Linked DNA regions of Homo sapiens: region 1 is linked to region 2. The links come from fine-mapping of genetic effects on gene expression. A gene starts in region 2. The other region holds a variant in brackets. All regions are shown on one strand. Distances are from middle to middle.

Region 1 (8,341 bases), 460 kb after region 2:
AAGAGGCTCCAGTGGGGATTCCAGAGACTTTCAGGCAGCAAATTTAAGGGTTTAGTTAAATTAGATTTAGAAGGTGAGAGAAAGGAGAGACATCAAGGATGGCTCCTCCTTTTTGGCATTTTCAGCTGGCTCCTTGGAATTCCAGGGATGGGGAACACCAGGCGAGAAGTACCTTCTTGAAATCTGCAAGGAACTAGGGGTGGTTGATCCTAAAAGCACATTCTAGTAGCCTAAATGTATAACAACCTAAATGCCAAATAGAAGTACAAGTAATGTGGCCAGGAGTGGTGGCTCACGCCTGTAATCCTGGCATTTTGGGAGGCCGAGGCGGGTGGATCACCTGAGGTCAGGCGTTCTAGACCAGCCTGGCCAACATGGCGAAACCCCGTCTCTATTAAAAATACTAAAAAATTAGCCAGGCGTAGTGGCGCATACCGGTAGCCCCAGCTACTCGGCAGGCTGAGGCAGGAGAACCGCTTGAATCCGGGAGGCGGAGGTTGCAGTGAGTCGCGATTGCGCAGTTGTACTCCAGCCTGGGCAACATGAGCGAAACTCTGTCTCAAAAAAAAAAAAAAAAAAAAAAAAAAATACAAGTAATGTGTTGTGGGATCAATAAATTCTGAGTGAGTGTTTAAGGAGTGGCATTTTAATAAAAAATAGTTTTCAAAAGGTGTGGAAGTTTTGGAAGCTTTCTATTTAAAAAAAAAAAAAAAAGACCATTTCCATCAAATAAAACAAAAAAATCTTTCTTATCTTCCTGTGCTGCGTGGGGAACTACCCAGGAGAGTGTTTGGGAAGTGAATTCCTGAGTGGGAGAAAAGCATAAACGAGGACGCCGAGCCAAGAAAGGGCCTGGTGTCTCTGGGGGACTGAATATCCTAATGTGAATGGTGTGAACAATCTACAAAGAAAAATGAAAAGCTTATTTGTTGGCTTTATGAATTGAAAATTATTTAATACACTATTATTAAGTAGATTTCTTTCAAAGATGATAATGTAGTAAAATAGTATTTTAATAAAAAATCAAGTTAAAGTAGAGAGGAAGAGCAGAGTGGTTGCTTAATTCTTAGGCCTAAATTCTAAATGAAATTAATTTTGGAGGAAGATGCCAATTTATCTTGTTTTTCAAACAACCTGGTATGAAACAGAGTGATAAAATCAGCATAGCCCATGTAACTCTATTACATAAAGGAGAGAGTTTGATTTTTTTTGTATGTACCAACCGTTAAAAACATTTTTGTCTGACCTTGCAGGATGAAAAATTCATTCCTTTGGTTCATTTTAGAGATGCATTTGTTCCAAAGAGAGGTACTTTTTTATTATTTGTCATTTACATCAAGGATGGCCAGACTTTTTCTGTAAAGAGCTAAATAGTAAATAGTTTAAGCTTTGTTGAACCAGGAGACAAAATCAAGGATAGTATTTAGGCACTTATATAACAAGAGAGAAAATAATTTCCACAAATTTTTAATTGATGAAATTCAAAACATTATTAATGGATATGGAAATTTAAATTTCATGTAATTATTCTCACTTATGAAATATTCTTCTTTTTAAAAAACACCATTAAAATATAAAAGAACTGTTCTTAGCTTATAGGCCAAACAAAAACAGGTGGTGAGCCAGATTTGGTCTGTGGGCCCTTCCTTTGCCAACACTTATTTACATTACACTGTGAAAGAAAGAGTCTGTTAGTCATTTTATGGGATCAGGGTTTTCTCTTTGGAACAAAGGAGAGACCATGAGGACATTGGCCATTGTTACTTGAAAGTGTGTGTGAGGTGGTGGGGGCCTGGTGTGGGCATTTTGGGTTTGTCTGATCTTTTGGTTTTCTACTTTTAGAAAAGCCCTGGGTAGCTGGGAGCTGAATAATGTACACACATGGATGTAGTGTATGGAATGACAGACAGTGGAGACTTGGCAGGGTGAGAGGGTTGGCAGGAAATGGAGGATAAGAAATTACTTAATGAGTACATTGGGTTATTTGGGTGAAAGATACCTTAAAAGCCTTGACTTCTACACAATCTATGCACATAGCAAAAACTACATTTACACACCATACATTTAAACAAGAAAGAAAAGAAAAGTCCTGGGTAAGTAAAATGTCTGAAAAAGCCTTTAAAAATTTTTTTATTTTAGGTTCAGGGGTGCGTATGCAGGTTCATTATACAGATAAACTCACGTCATGGGGATTTGTTGTACAGATTATTTCATCACCCAGGTACTAAGCCTAGTACTCAATAGTTATTTTTTTCTGCTCCTCTCCCTCCTCCCACCCTTCACCCTCAAGTAGGCCCCAGTATCTGTTGCTCCCTTGTGTCCATGAGTTCCTTCCTTTGTGTAATTTAGCTCCAACTTACAAGTGAGAATATGTGGTATTTGTTTTTCTGTTCCTGTATTCGTTTGCTAAGGATAATGGCCTCCAGCTCCATCCATGCTCCCACAAAAGACATGATCTTATTATTTTTTTTTATGGCTGCATAGTATTTCATGGTATATACGTACCACATTTTCTTTATTCACTCTACCATTGATGGACATTTAGGTTGATTCCATGTATTTGCTATTGTTAATAGTGCTGTAATGGACATTTGTGTGCATGTATCTTCATGGTAGAATGATTTATATTCCTCTGGGTATGTAACAACCTAAATGGGATTGCTGGGTTGAATGGTAGTTCTGTTTTTAGCTCTTTGAGGAATTGCCACACTGCTTTCCACAATAGTTGAACTAATTTACACTCCTGCCAACAGTGTATATGTGTTCCTTTTTCTCCACAACCTCTCCAGCATCTGTTATTTTTTCGACTTTTTTAATAATAGCCATTCTGACTGATATGAGATGGTATCTCGTTGTCGTTTTATTTTATTTTATTTTATTTTATTTTAATTTTGAGATGGAGTTTCACTCTTGTTGCCCAGGCTGGAGTGCAATGGCACAATCTTGGCTCACTGCAACCTCCCAGGTTCAAGCGATTCTCCTGCCCAGCCTCCCGAACAACTGGGATTACAGGCACATGCTACCATGTCCAGCTAATTTTTGTATTTTTAGTAGATACAGGGTTTCTCCATGTGGGTCAGGCTGGTCTCGAACTCCTGACCTCAGGTGATCCGCCCACCTTGGCCTCCCAAAGTGTTGGGATTACGGATGTGACCCACCGCGCTTGGCCTTCGTTGTGGTTTTGATTTGCGTTTCTCTAATGGTTAGTAAATTTTTTTTCATAAGCTCATTGGCTGCATCTGTGTCTTCTTTTGAGAAGTGTCTGTTCATGTCATTTGCCCACTTTTTAATAGAGCCGTTTGCTTTTTCTTGGAAATTTGTTTAAGTTCCTTATAGATGCTACATATTAGACCTTTGCCAGATGCATAGTTTGCAAAAATTTTCTCTCATTCGGTAGGTTGTCTGTTCACTCTGTTTATAATTTCCTTTGCTGTGTAGAAGCTCTTAGGTTTAATTAGATCTTATTTGTCAATTTTTGTTTTGGCTGCAATTACTTTTGGCATTGTCATCATGAAATCTTTGGCCGTTCCTATGTCTAGGATGGTATTGCCTAGGTTGTCTTCCAGGGTTTTTTTTTTAATTTTAATTTTTAGTTCTGGGATACGTGTGCAGGATGTGCAGGTTTGTTATGTAGGTAAACGTGTGCCACAGTGGTTTGCTGCACCTGTCAACCCATCACTTAGGTATTAAGCCCATCATGCATTAGTTATTTTTCCTAATGCTCTCCCCCACACCTCACCCCTGGACAGGCCCCAGTGTGTGTTGTTCCCCTCTCTGTGTCCATGTGTTCTTATTGTTCAGCTTCCACTTACAACTGAGAATATGTGGTATATTTGGTTTTCTATTACTGCGTTAGTTTGCTGAGGATAATGGCTTCCAGCCTGGCTGCGTAGTATTCCATGGTGTATATGTACCACATTTTCTTTATCCAGTCCATCACTGATGAGCATTTAGATTGATTCCATGTCTTTGCTATTGTGGACAGTGCTGCAGTGAACATTTGTGTGCATGTACCTTTGTAATAGAATGATTTATATTGCTTTGGGTATATACCTCATAGTGGGATTGCTGGGTCAAATGGTATTTCTGGTTCTAGATCTTTGAGGAATTGCCACACTGTTCAATGGTTGAACTAATTTACACTCCCACCAATGGT[G/A]TAAAACGTTCCCATTTCTCCACAGCTGTGCCAGAATCTGTTGTTTCTTGACTTTTTAATACTGGCCGTTCTGACTGGCATGAGATGGTATCTTATTGTGGTTTTGATTTGCATTTCTCTAATGATCAGTGATGTTGAGCCTTTTTCATATGTTTGCTGGCTACATGAATGTCTTCTTTTAAGAAATGTCTGTTCATGTCCTTTTCCCACTTTTTAATAGGGTTGTTTGTTTTTTTCTTGTAAATTTGTTTGAGTTCCTTTGTAGATTCTGGATATTAAACCTTTGTTGGATAGGTAGATTGCAGAAATTTTCTCCCACTCTGTAGGTTGCCTGTTCACTCTGATGACAGTTTCTTTTGCTGTGCATAAGCTCTTTAGTTTAATTAGATCCCGTTTGTCAATTTTTGCTTTTGTTGCAATTGCTTTTCATGTCTTTGCCATACAATCTTTGCCCATGCCTATGTCCTGAATGGTATTGCCTAGATTCTCTTCTAGGATCTTTATAGTTTGGGATTTTACATTTAAATCTTTAATCCATCCAAGGTTTGAGGAAGGGGTCCAGTTTCAATTTTCTGCAAATGGATAGCCAGTTCTCCTAGCACCATTTATTGAATAGGGAATCCTTTTCTCATTGCTTGTTTTTGTAAGGTTTGTTGAAGATTAGATGCTTGTAGCTGTACTATCTTAATTCTGAGTTCTCTATTCTGTTCCATTGGTCTATGTGTCTGTTTTTGTACCAGTACCATGCTGTTTTGGTTATTGCAGCCTTATAGTATAGTTTGAAGTCTGGTAGCAAGATGCCTCCAGCTTTGTTCTTTTCTCTTAGAATTGTCTTGGCTATATGGGCTCTTTTTTGGTTCCATATGAACTTTAAAATAGTTTTTTTCTAATTCTGTGAAGAATTTCAATGGTAGTTTAATGGGAATAGCATTAAATCTATAAATTACTTTGGGCAGTATGACCATTTTCACGATATTGATTCTTCTTATGAGCATGGAATATTTTTCCATTTGCTTGTGTCCTCTCTGGTTTCCTTAAGCAGTGGTTTGTAGTTCTCCTTGAAGAGGCCCTTCACTTCCCTTGTTAGCTGTATTCCTAGGTATTTTATTCTCTTTGTAGCAATTGTGAATGGGAGTTCATTCATGATTTGGCTCTCCACTTGTGTGTTGTTGGTGTACAGGAATGCTAGCAATTTTTGCGCACTGATTTTGCTGAAGTTGCTTATCGGCTTAAGAAGCTTTTGGGCTTAGAAGATGGGGTTTTCTAGATATAGGATCATGTCATCTGCAAACAAAGACAATTTGACATCCTCCCTTCCTATTTAAATATGCTTTATTTTGTTCTTTTGCCTGATTGCCCTGGCCAGAACTTCCAATACTATGTTAAATAGGAGTGGTGAGAGAGGGCATCCTTGTCTTGTGCCAGTTTTCAAAGGAAATGCTCCCAGCTTTGCCCATTCAGTATGATATTGGCTGTGGGTTTATCATAAATGGCTTTTATTATTTTGAGATATGTTCCTTCAATACTTTGTTTATTGAGAGTTTTAAACATGAAGATATGTTGACTTTTATTTAAGGCCTTTTCTGCGTCTATTGAGATAATCACATGGTTTTTGTCTTTAGATCTGTTTATATGATGAATTACGTTTATTGATTTGCGTATGTTGAACCAGCCTTGCATCCTGGGACTGAAGCCAACTTGATCGTGGTCTTCTAGGGTTTTTATAGTTTTGGATTTTACATTTAAGTCTTTACTCTGTCTTGAATTGATTTTTGTATATGGTGAAAGGAAGGGGTCCAGCTTCAGTCTTCTCCATATGGCTAGCCAGTTCTCCCAGCACCATTTATTGAATAGGGAGTCCTTTCCCCATCGCTTCTTGTTGTTAGCTTTGTTGAAGATCAGATGGTTGTAGGTGTGTGGCCATATTTCTGGGCTCTCTATTCTGTTTCATTAGTCTATGTGCCTGTTTTTGTATCAGTACTATGCAGTTTTGTTTACTGTAGCCCTGTAGTATAGTTTGAAGTTGGGTAGCAACTTGCTTAGGATTGCCTTGGCTATTTGGGCTCTTTTTTGGTTCCGTGTGGATTTTAAAATAGTTTTTCCCTAGTTCTGTGAAGAATGTCATTAATAGTTTGATAGTCATACCATTGAATCTGCAAATTGTTTTGGGCAGTATGGCCATTTTAATGATATTGATTTTTTTTTTATCCATGAGCATGGAATGTTTTTCCGTTTGTTTTTGTCATCTCTGATTTCTTTGAGCAATGTTTTGTAATTCTCATTGTAGAGCTCTTTCACCTCCCTGGTTAGCTGTATTCCTGTATTCCTAGGCATTTTATTTTTTTTGTGGTAACGGTGAATGGGATTGCATTCCTGGCTTATTTCTTGGCATGACTGTTGTTGGTGATTTTTGTACATTCCTGGTGAATTTTGTGCGTTGATTGTGTATCCTGAAACTTTGCTGAAGTTGTCAGCTGAAGGAGCTTTTGGATTGAGATTATGGGTTTTTCTAGATATACTGAAAAAGTCTTTATTTCACCTTCATTTTTGAAATGTATACAAAATTAAATGACTGTGGAAACTCAAATGATGTTTTTGAGAATATATCTGTGCTTTCACTCTAAAATTTGGGTCTTTTGCCTTACAAAAATGTAATCAATCATTGTATTGCACAGTTACATTTTTTTAAACATTATTTATTATGATAAGTTATCAAGATTTGTGAGTTAATTTGAAGTGTTCATCCCCAATTATCCTACTCATACTATCAAATTCAAACTTTTTTACCTTATTAGTTATGCCAGTTACAAAGATTTTGAGAAAATATTGGTGTTGTGTCACAGTTGGCTGTCTTTGAAAAATCAAACACTGCTATGATGAAAGTTAGTATGAGGTTCATGTGATGAGGAGGTCATGTTCCCAAATCAGCACTTACTTTAAAAAACCCTGTTGTCTCAGACCAAAAGCTTCTTACATTGATAAGCAACTTCAGCAAATTCTCAGGACACAAAATCAGTGTGCAAAAGTTGCTAGCATTCTTGTACACCAACAACAGGCAAGCAGAGAGCCAAATAATGAATGAACTCCCATTCACAATTGCTACAGAAAGAATAAATACCTAGGACTATAGCTAATAAGGGAAGTGAAGGACCTCTTCAAGGAGAACTATAAACCACTGCTCAAAGAAATCAGAGATGACCCAAACAAATGGAGAAACATTTCTTGCTCATGGATAGGAAGAATCAATATTGTGAAAATGGCCATACTGCCCAAAGTAATTTATAGATTTAATGCTATTCCCATTAAACTACCATTGACATTCTTCACAGAATTAGAAAAAGCTATTTTAAAGCTCATGTGGAACAAAAAAAGAGCCCATGTAGCCAAGGCAATCCTAAGTGAAAAGAATAAGGCTGGAGGCATCACACTGCCCAATTTCAAACTATACTAAAGGCTACAGTAACCACAACAGCATGGTACTGGTACAAGAACAGACACATAGATGAATAGAACAGAATAGAGAGCTCAGAAATGAGACGTCGCACCTACAACCATCAGATCTTTGACAAAGCTGACAACAAGAAGCAATGGAGAAAAGAATCCCTATTTAATAAATGGCACCAGGAGAAGTGGTTATCCATATGTAGAAAATTGAAACTGGACCCTTTCCTCACACCATATACAAAAATTAACTCAAGATGGATTAAAGACTTAAATGTAAAACCCCAAACTACAAAGACCCTAGAAGAAAATCTAGGCAGTATCATCAGGATAGAGGTATGGGCAAAGATTTCAAGATGAAAATGCCAAAAGCAATTGCAACAAAAGCAAACATTGACAAATGGGATCTAATTAAACTAAACAGCTATTCCACAGCAAAAGAAACTATAATCAGAGTGAACAGACAACCTACAAAATTGGGGAAAATTTTTGCAATCTATCCATCTGACAAAAGTCCAATATCCAGAGCTTATCAGGAACTTAAATCTACAAGAAAAAAACAAACAACCCCATTAAAAAGTGGGTAAAGGACATGAGCAGACATTTCTCAAAAGAAGACATACTTGTGGCCAGCAAACTTATGGAAAAGAGCTCAACCTTACTGATTATTAGAGAAATGAAAATCAGAACCACAATGAGATATCATCTCATGCCAGTTAGAATGGCTATTATTAAAAAGTCAAA
Region 2 (8,341 bases):
TTACTGTAGTCAAGCAAAGTGCTATGAGACTGACTTGAAAATTTAAAAAATAGCTTTATCCATCATATCTATGTTCATTAATCTCATGTCTAGCCCAGTCTAGAATGCTTCCTTGCATATGACTGCTGGAAAGCTACTCTAAGATGCTTCCCTAGCAATTCAAACTCATTCTATCAAAACTGAACTTACTTATTCACCAATTTCTTTAATACCATCAACACTTTCCTCTTTCTCAACTAGTTATTTACCAGATTTTGCAAACTATTTCCTACTTCTTCAAGCTACCCTTTTCCATCTATCGTGCTTTACCACATACATTTTATTATTTATTTATTTATTTATTTATTTTTTGAGACAGGGTCTAACTCTGTCACCCAGGCTAGAGTGCAGTGGTACAATCTCAGCTCACTGCAACCTCCACCTCCTGGTTCAAGTGATTCTCATGCTTCAGCTTCCTGAGTAGCTGGGATTACAGACATGTGCCACCATGCCTGGCTATTTTTTGTATTTTTAGTAGAGACGGTGGGGGGAGGTCCCACCATGTTGGATAGGGTGGTCTCCAACTCCTAGCCTCAAGTGATCCACCCACCTCAGCCTCCCAAAGTGCTGGGGTTACAGGCATGAGCCACAGAGCCCAGCCTTTTTATCGTTTTTCAATTAGATTAACTAGTCTTGCAAACTTGAGAATTTTGATTCTGAAACGTATTTCTAAATTGATGAATGAAAGTGTAAATCTAATCTCATCACTCCTGTTTTAACTTTCAAAATTCATTGACTATAGAATCAAGTCCAAGGTACTTAATTAGGAGATCATTTATATTGCCTGGCATGGTGACTCATGCATGTAATCCGAGCACTTTGGGAGGCCAAAGTGGGAGGACTGCTTGAGGCCAGGACTTTGATACCAGCCCCAGCAACATAGTGAGTCCCCAACTCTATTTTTAAAAAAGACCTTTCATAATCTCTCCAACTTCATTTCCCACCACTTTCCATGTTAAATTTTATACTGTGATATTAAATTGCTTATAGCTCCTTACAGTATCTCACTCCCATATTGATTCCTTTATAAGGAATTCTGTTTTCTCTGCACCTCCACCCTCACCTCTTCACCTTGCTAAGTCTTATTCATACTACAGGAGGCATTATCTCCTTCAGATTTTCCTGACTCTGTCTTCCTCATCCCCTGAACTCCCCTCTCCCAAAGCCATTTCTCAGTTTACACAGTGTGATGGTTAATTTTGTCAACTTGGCTGGGCCATGGTGCACAGATATTTGGTGAAACGTTATCCTGGATGCTTCTGTGAAGGTGTTTTTTTGATGAGATTACCATTTAAATCACCAGACTTTGAATACAACAGATTACATTCCATGTATGTCCAACTACAATTCTTTTCTGAGGCTTGCCCGCCTCTTCCCTCAGATTTTGGACTCACTAAAAGTCCACAACTGCATGAGCCATTTCCTTACAATAAATCACTGTCCCTCTCTCTATGTAGTCTCTGTGTATACACACATATCCTGTTTGTTCTGTTTCTCTGGAGAACCCTGATTAATACATATGGTATTCTCAGCTACTTGTGTGCCTAATTGTTATTCATTATTTTATTTGCAGAACTGATCAGTGTGTGACACACTGCAGAAGCCTAATATTTATAGACTTGAGAATATTAATGATCTGACATTAACAGACTTGATAATATTAATAATATGACATTCTTTTTCTCCCTGTAACGAAAGAGTGGTTCATTTTCTTCTTCTCATCTTCATCCATATTTCTGTAAAAGTCCAGCTTGTATGAGGTATGAGGACATAGACAATATCTTTGATAATCATTTTGAGAAAAGAAAAAAGCTCTAATTTATCTCTTTCATTTCTTATAGACAGGCAACTGTTAGAACAATAGAAAATGAAGAAATGGATATGTTGGTTATGGTGGTGGTGGAGGGGAGTAGGGGAAAACTTACCTGTTGTGGTATCAAAAGTTTAGGGAAAGAACATTAATGAGTTACTTCAGGTATGTTAGGGAAAAAGGAAAAAGAATAGGGAGAATTAGTCCTAATGTTTGAACTCACTGCATAAAACAGAGAGAGAGAGAGAGAAAATCAGCTTACTAAAAGGAAAGAAAATATGAGGTTTCTCTTTATGCCAGAGACTGTAAGCACCCAGATAATGGGCTTTAAAAAAAGGAGGAAATGAACTTTACTCAATGAAAAATATTATAATTTTTCTCTAAATTTATTCTACTAATTCATTACATGGTTTGAATGTTCTCATTGTGGTAGTCACTATCCTGTTTTATTTATTATTTCCTAGCCAGGAAAATCAACTTTTTCCTTTGTTTTACACATAATTTGATTTGGCCCTAAGCCTTTGCACAAGCTATATACTTCCTGATTGGAGTATTTGCTCTGATAAACTGTACACTCTTTGTTTTTGTCTCATAGATTTTTATGGTACTTTATGTTCATAAATATGATTCAAATCCTGACTGAAGTAAAGCAAAAAAGAAAAAAGCATTTCAAAGCTGAATCTGTAACAAACTTCTTGAGAACACTGTTCATTACAGCATACATAACGAAAATTTGGTGAATATTATAACCTCTGTTGTTCCAAGTTAATCTACGTCCAACTTTTCCATTTTGTTAGTTTTCACAGCGTCATGCTCTGTCCCCCAGGCTGGGGTGCAGTGGCGCCAGCCATCGTAGCTTATTTCAGTCTCCACCTCTGGGGCTCAAGCGATTCTCCCACCTCATCCTCCCTAGTAGCTGGGACTACGGGTATGCACCATCATGCCCAGCTAATTTTTTTGATTTTTAATAAAGTCAAGGTCTCGCCATGTTGTCCAGGCTGGTCTCGAACTCCTGGGCTCAAGCGATCCCACTGCCTCAGCCTTCCAAAGTGTTGGGACTACAGGCGTAAGCCACCGCGCCCGGCCTTTTTCAGTTTTTTAAACTCTCTTTTGTACACTTACTAAAGGATAAGTTCCTTTCATTAACTTTAACCACAAATTTAGGAACCCGTCAGCACCTCATATTATGCCTATTCTCTGGGGTGTATTAAAAAATATTATTGCTTATTACTCAGCACCCAGAAGAGTACCTGGCACATGGTATGTGGTCACTAAGTATTTGGTGTCTGAAGGAATCATGAGTAACAGGAGTTAAAGTGACATTTATAAAACCAATTCTGAACTATGGAACAAAAAACCCAAATTTAAATTACTAGCAGTTAATTATACCATTCTTAGTTCACGGAGGTAGGCCAATTGAAAACTTTGGACATTTTTAAATTCTGTAAGGTTTAACATTTTTTCTTAGAGGATTCACATATCGTAATCTCATCCAGCACTTCAGTCAAAAAAAAAAAAAAAAAAAAAAGTCACCAGCTCCAAGGTTTTAGTGTGAAACGTTCTTTGGCCAGGATCTAGATAGTACTTTTGCTCACTCAACCGGAGCCCGATCTGGTGCCATTTTCACTTGACCGCCGCTTCGAAACACGTCCCTCCCACCTCTCATCCCAAACCACACACAAAGAAGGAAAGCACAATTTCGACAGGTCTTGGGAAAACTCGACGAGGCCAAGTATGAGGCCACAAGACACCGTTTTTAGTTCCGCGTTCTCCCTCTTCTAATCCTATTAGGTTTTGTCCAGACAACGTTTTGCTCTTTCAGAAGAGAAAGAGCGTTCTGCGCTCGTCGTCTTGGATTCGACAACCATAAGCATCCCGTTAGGGCAACCACCGCAGCAGACTAAGTTCGACTACTTTCTCTCCAAACTCCTCCCGGGCCTTCTTCCCAAGCTCTCTCTTTCTCCTGGAGGCCCCGCCTCGCGGCCCGGCAGCGCGGCACGCGCATGCCCGGTGCTCGCCGCTTGCGCTCTCCCCTGCGGCGCGCCGCCGCCCCGTAGGCCCCACGCGCCGCCCCGCTCCTCCGCCGGATCGTCTGTGGGTGAGTCTCGAGCCAGGAGGCTCTGAGCCAGTGGCGATTGGCTGACGCGGTGGCTGCGCACTCGGCCTGAGAAACTCGGCAAGCGCGCAGTGTCGACTCCCCGGTCTATGCCAGGCGCATCTCAGGTAAACGGTTGGGCAGGGAGGTTTGGGCGACGGAGAATGATAGTGGTGGGCACAGATCAGCCCTGGAGTTTTCGGCCGCAGACTTTTCCTTGGAGAAGGAGAAGGGGCCCCGCGGAATCTGTACTTAGTGAATGCTGACCCCGCGTGGCCGGGAGTGATGGGGCTCTCTCGAAGGTCAGTGTCGTGGGGTCCTCAGGTGGCAGACAGCTCTTTCTGGGTATGGTTTTGGTATTGTCTCCAGTTTCCTAATACTGGACCTGAGCAGCTGAGCATTTATTCAAGGGTGTATTTTTTTTGTTTTTTTCCCCTTAAGTCGCGGTTAGTCAGAAGGTTCCAGTCCTCGCTCAACCTCTGATCGACTCTGTGCCCATGAGAGAGTCGTTTTATATTTCATTTCTCACACGTGGAAGTGTGGGCGAAGAATGAGGGGCTTCTTTAAGCGCGCTAAGCCATGCTGTAAAAAGATACTGTTAGAATTTTTTTTTTTCTTTTTTGATTCACAATGTCCCTGGACCTGGTGCAACGTTTGGGAAGCATTTTAAGCTCTATGGATGGAGGGAACAAGACAGCCGCATTATTAGACAAGGATGGTAGAAAGGAACAACTTTCCACAAACACACGCGTTTGGAAAAGCTCCTTTGAGCATTTTATGCAGGTTAAATCACAGTGGTAGTAGATAGAAATAAGCCAAAACAAAGGGCCAAACAAAACTACATTTCAAGGAGGTGTTCTTTTCTTCCCCAGATAACTTGAATATACTATCACAAATTATTGGCGTTTCAAAGTTTTTCCTTGTGATCTGGTATGGAGTTCATCTAAAATGACAATTACATAATCATTCTATGCAATCGTATGCCAATAAAATTAATTAAAACAGTTTAATTTTTAATGTGAGGAATAGGAATCAAGACATGTCATTGATGGGAGGTAATGATGGCAATCAGCAAAATGAATGGGAGATGTATACAATTTTCCTTCAAAGGAGTAGAGTTTATAGAGATATTTTTATTGCGTTAATATTTAAAGTATAAAGACATACAGAAAAGTGCATGAATCGTAAGTGTACAGCTCGGTGAATTTTCACAAAGTGTAAATACCCATGTATCCAGTATCTAGATCAGGAAAGAGCATTATTGCATCCCGGAAGCCCCACTTCATGGTTCCAAAGGTAATCATTATCTGGACTTCCAACATTATCAATGAATTTCACCTATTATTTACTTTATATAAATGGAGTAATATGGTATTTAGTCCTTAGTTTCTGATTTTTGCTCAATATTTTATTTGTGAGATTTATTCAAGTTATGTAGCAGTTTGTTATTCTCATGCTGTATGTATAGTATTTCTAGTTTTTGGCTATTACCAATAGGGCTGCTATAAAGATTTTTAGAAATATTTTGATGAAATTATGTATACTTTTTTTTTTCTTCTTTTTTTTGAGATGGAGTCTCGCTCTGCCGCCAAGGCTGGAGTGCAGTGGCGCGATCTCGGCTTACTGCAACCTCCGCCTCCCGGGATCAAGCAATTCTCCTGTCTCAGCCTCCCGAGTAGCTGGGACTACAGGTGCCTACCACCACGCCTGGCTAAGTTTTGTATTTTTAGTAAAGACGGGGTTTCACCTTGTTGGTCAGGCTGGTCTCAAACTCCTGACCTCAGCTGATCCACCTGCCTCAGCATCCCAGAGTGCTGGGATTACAGGTGTGAACCATCGCGCCTGGCCATATGTACATTTTTATTGCGTATATGCCTACTAGAAAATTACTGTGTTACAGGATAGGCAGATGTGTGTTTGTGGTATACACTACTGAAAAGTTTTTCATATTGTGTCAATTTATACTTCAGTGGCAGCTTGAGAATTCTGGTTCCTCCAAATGCTTGCAACATTTCACACTGTCTTTTTCATTTTAGCCATTCTAGTAGGAATATAGTGACATAACATTGGGGTTTTCCCATAATTTCCCTAATGACTGATGGTATTGAACACATATTCATGTGTTTACTGGCATTTGGATATCCTCTATTTCTGTAAGGGACCAGACAATAAGTGTAGGCAGCCCTCGCTTTGTAGAGTTTCAGCTAACCAAGTAATGTGTGAAGCTCGGACTACCTGTATTTTAGGTTGTACAGGCTGTACAGTCTCTGTTACACATTCTTTTCTGTTTTTTTCCTCTTTACTTTGTTCCCAACCCTTTAAATATGTAAAAACAATTCTTAGCTCATGGGTTATACAAAAACAGTTGTTAAAAGATAACTTTAGGCACATGGAAATTTTAGAGTTTATATGAGCATTCAGCAATTTCATAAATTGGGTATCACCAGACCACAAGTTATTCAAGACTCCACCAAGAGGGTGTGAGGGGAAAACTTTTATAAGGTGTTTATGGAAACAGAAAATATTTGATTGGTAACAGTGGAATGTCTCTAGTTAGAAGTTGTTTGGTGGTTTCTGATTGATTAAACTCAAGTTTAGTTTTACTGTTTACATTGAGTTGGGTTTTGGTTTGTTTACATAGGAACCCAAAGTGCTGGAGCTGTCTCAACCTAATGGTTTCCCAGTTAGTTTTTTTTTTTTTTTTTTTTTTTAACACAGTCCTCTGGCTGGATTTGAGTTGTGGGCCATAGCGTACTAACCCCTGCTCTATTGAAAAATGTTTGTTCAATTTTTTGCCAATTGGTTGGATGTGAAATCAGTAACTGAGATGGGCTATATTAGAGAAATATAGATCCATAATACTATATCTATCTATGTGTGTGTGTGTGTGTGTGTGTGTGTGTGTGTGTGTGTGTGTGTGTGTATTTTTTTTTTTTTTTTTTTTGAGACAAGGTGTACCTCTGTCACCCAGGCTGGAGTGCAGTGGGGTGATCTCGGTTCACTGCAGCCTCTGCCTCCTGGGCTGAAGTGATCCTCTCACCTCGGCTTCCCAAGTAGCTAGGGTTACAGGCACACACCAACATGCCCAGGCTAATTTTAATATTTTTTTGTGGAGATGGGGTTTTGCCATGTTGCCCAGGCTGGTTTTAAACTCCTGAGCTCAAGTGATCCTCCTTCCCCAGCCTCCCTAAATGCTGGGATTACAGGCACAAGCCACCACACCTGGCCAGTATTGTAAAGCAGCATGTGTTATAGTGTTTTGGTGTTGGATTTCAGATCTCTAAACATACTTTATTTGGTTTACCAGTTTTACCTTAAGACTAATTAGAGGCCAGTTTGATTCTTGTCTGAATTGTTTTTACTTCTCCCACTTTCTTCTCACCCTGTAAATCTGAAGAACAAAAGACAGGTAAGAAGTGAGAAAAGAAAGAAGAGACAGTCTTTCTTTGATATTATTTAAAAGGCTAGGAAAGAAAAGGATGAATGTCTAGACAGTTCTGGATATTTTGAGTAAAAATATGTAAAAATATATAATATAGTTATTGTAATATTTTAAGGTGCATTTTGTCCTTTGAGCTGTTCCATCTTGGGTTTTCTGACATTTTTATCTAGTGATTGAGTACACTCATGATATAGGACGTAATAGCCATTGACTTGGGCCGTGAAGCTCAACTGTGACACCTCTTCCCAGGATGGAGGCCCTTTCTTCCTTAAATGTCTCTTTGGGCTGCCCAGTTCATCTTTTACTCTTGGCCCCCTGCCTTTTGCTCAGTATTGCCCAAAATTTTACTTTAATACCATTCAGCCCACCATCCATGTTAACATTTTTAGCTAACACTTTCTAGGTATTTGTTGTTGTTCTTGTTGTTGCTTTTAGAAACAGGATCTTGCTCTGTCACTCAGGCTGGAGTACAGTGGTGCAATCATAGCTCACTGTAACCTTGACCTGGGGTCAAGCTGTCTTCCCTGCTGCAACCTCCCAAGTAGATAGGACTGCAGGTGCTCAACATCACACCTAGCTATTTTGTTTTCTGTTTTTGTTGAGACAGAGTCTACCTTTGTTGTCCGGTCTAGTATCCAACCCCTGGCCTCAGGTCCTCCTGCCTCGACCTCCCAAAGTGCCAGGATTACAGGCATTAGCCACTGCACCAGCCCATTTCTTGTTTTTAAGTAATTTATAGAAGTGAATTTAGTGCACATTTAGATATATGCTAATACTAATGAAGGGTGTGAGGGTAATTTCATCAGTGTGATCCTTCTTTGATATGTATAATTGTTTTTTTTAGTCTTACTTGATTGTTATGCAGATAGATTTAAGAGGGGCCTCACCTTCCACTATCAATTCATTGCAGTTAAGTAAGCTTTTCTCATATAGAAATTCTGGATCCAGTACATAC

Direction of the effects. Alleles are on the strand shown, and positions count from the first base shown. SD is a standard deviation of normalised expression in the study named.
In carriers of allele A in region 1, the expression in breast of the gene that starts at base 3,905 in region 2 tends to be higher than with G alone (moderate effect, 0.42 SD a copy in GTEx).

Evidence for each region.
Region 1: its variant is fine-mapped to the expression of MIPOL1 in breast (GTEx, PIP 0.92).

Annotation. Positions count from the first base shown.
Region 1 is chr14:37,656,652-37,664,992 of GRCh38, forward strand. All of the region lies in intron 3 of TTC6 (tetratricopeptide repeat domain 6), which reads left to right. Among named protein-coding and RNA genes, the nearest start is that of TTC6, 65 kb to the left of the region's middle. The variant G/A (reference allele first, on the strand shown) is at 4,157.
Region 2 is chr14:37,194,033-37,202,373 of GRCh38, forward strand. MIPOL1 (mirror-image polydactyly 1) reads left to right here and starts at 3,905. Exons shown (of 13, transcript NM_001388067.1): 1 at 3,905-4,072.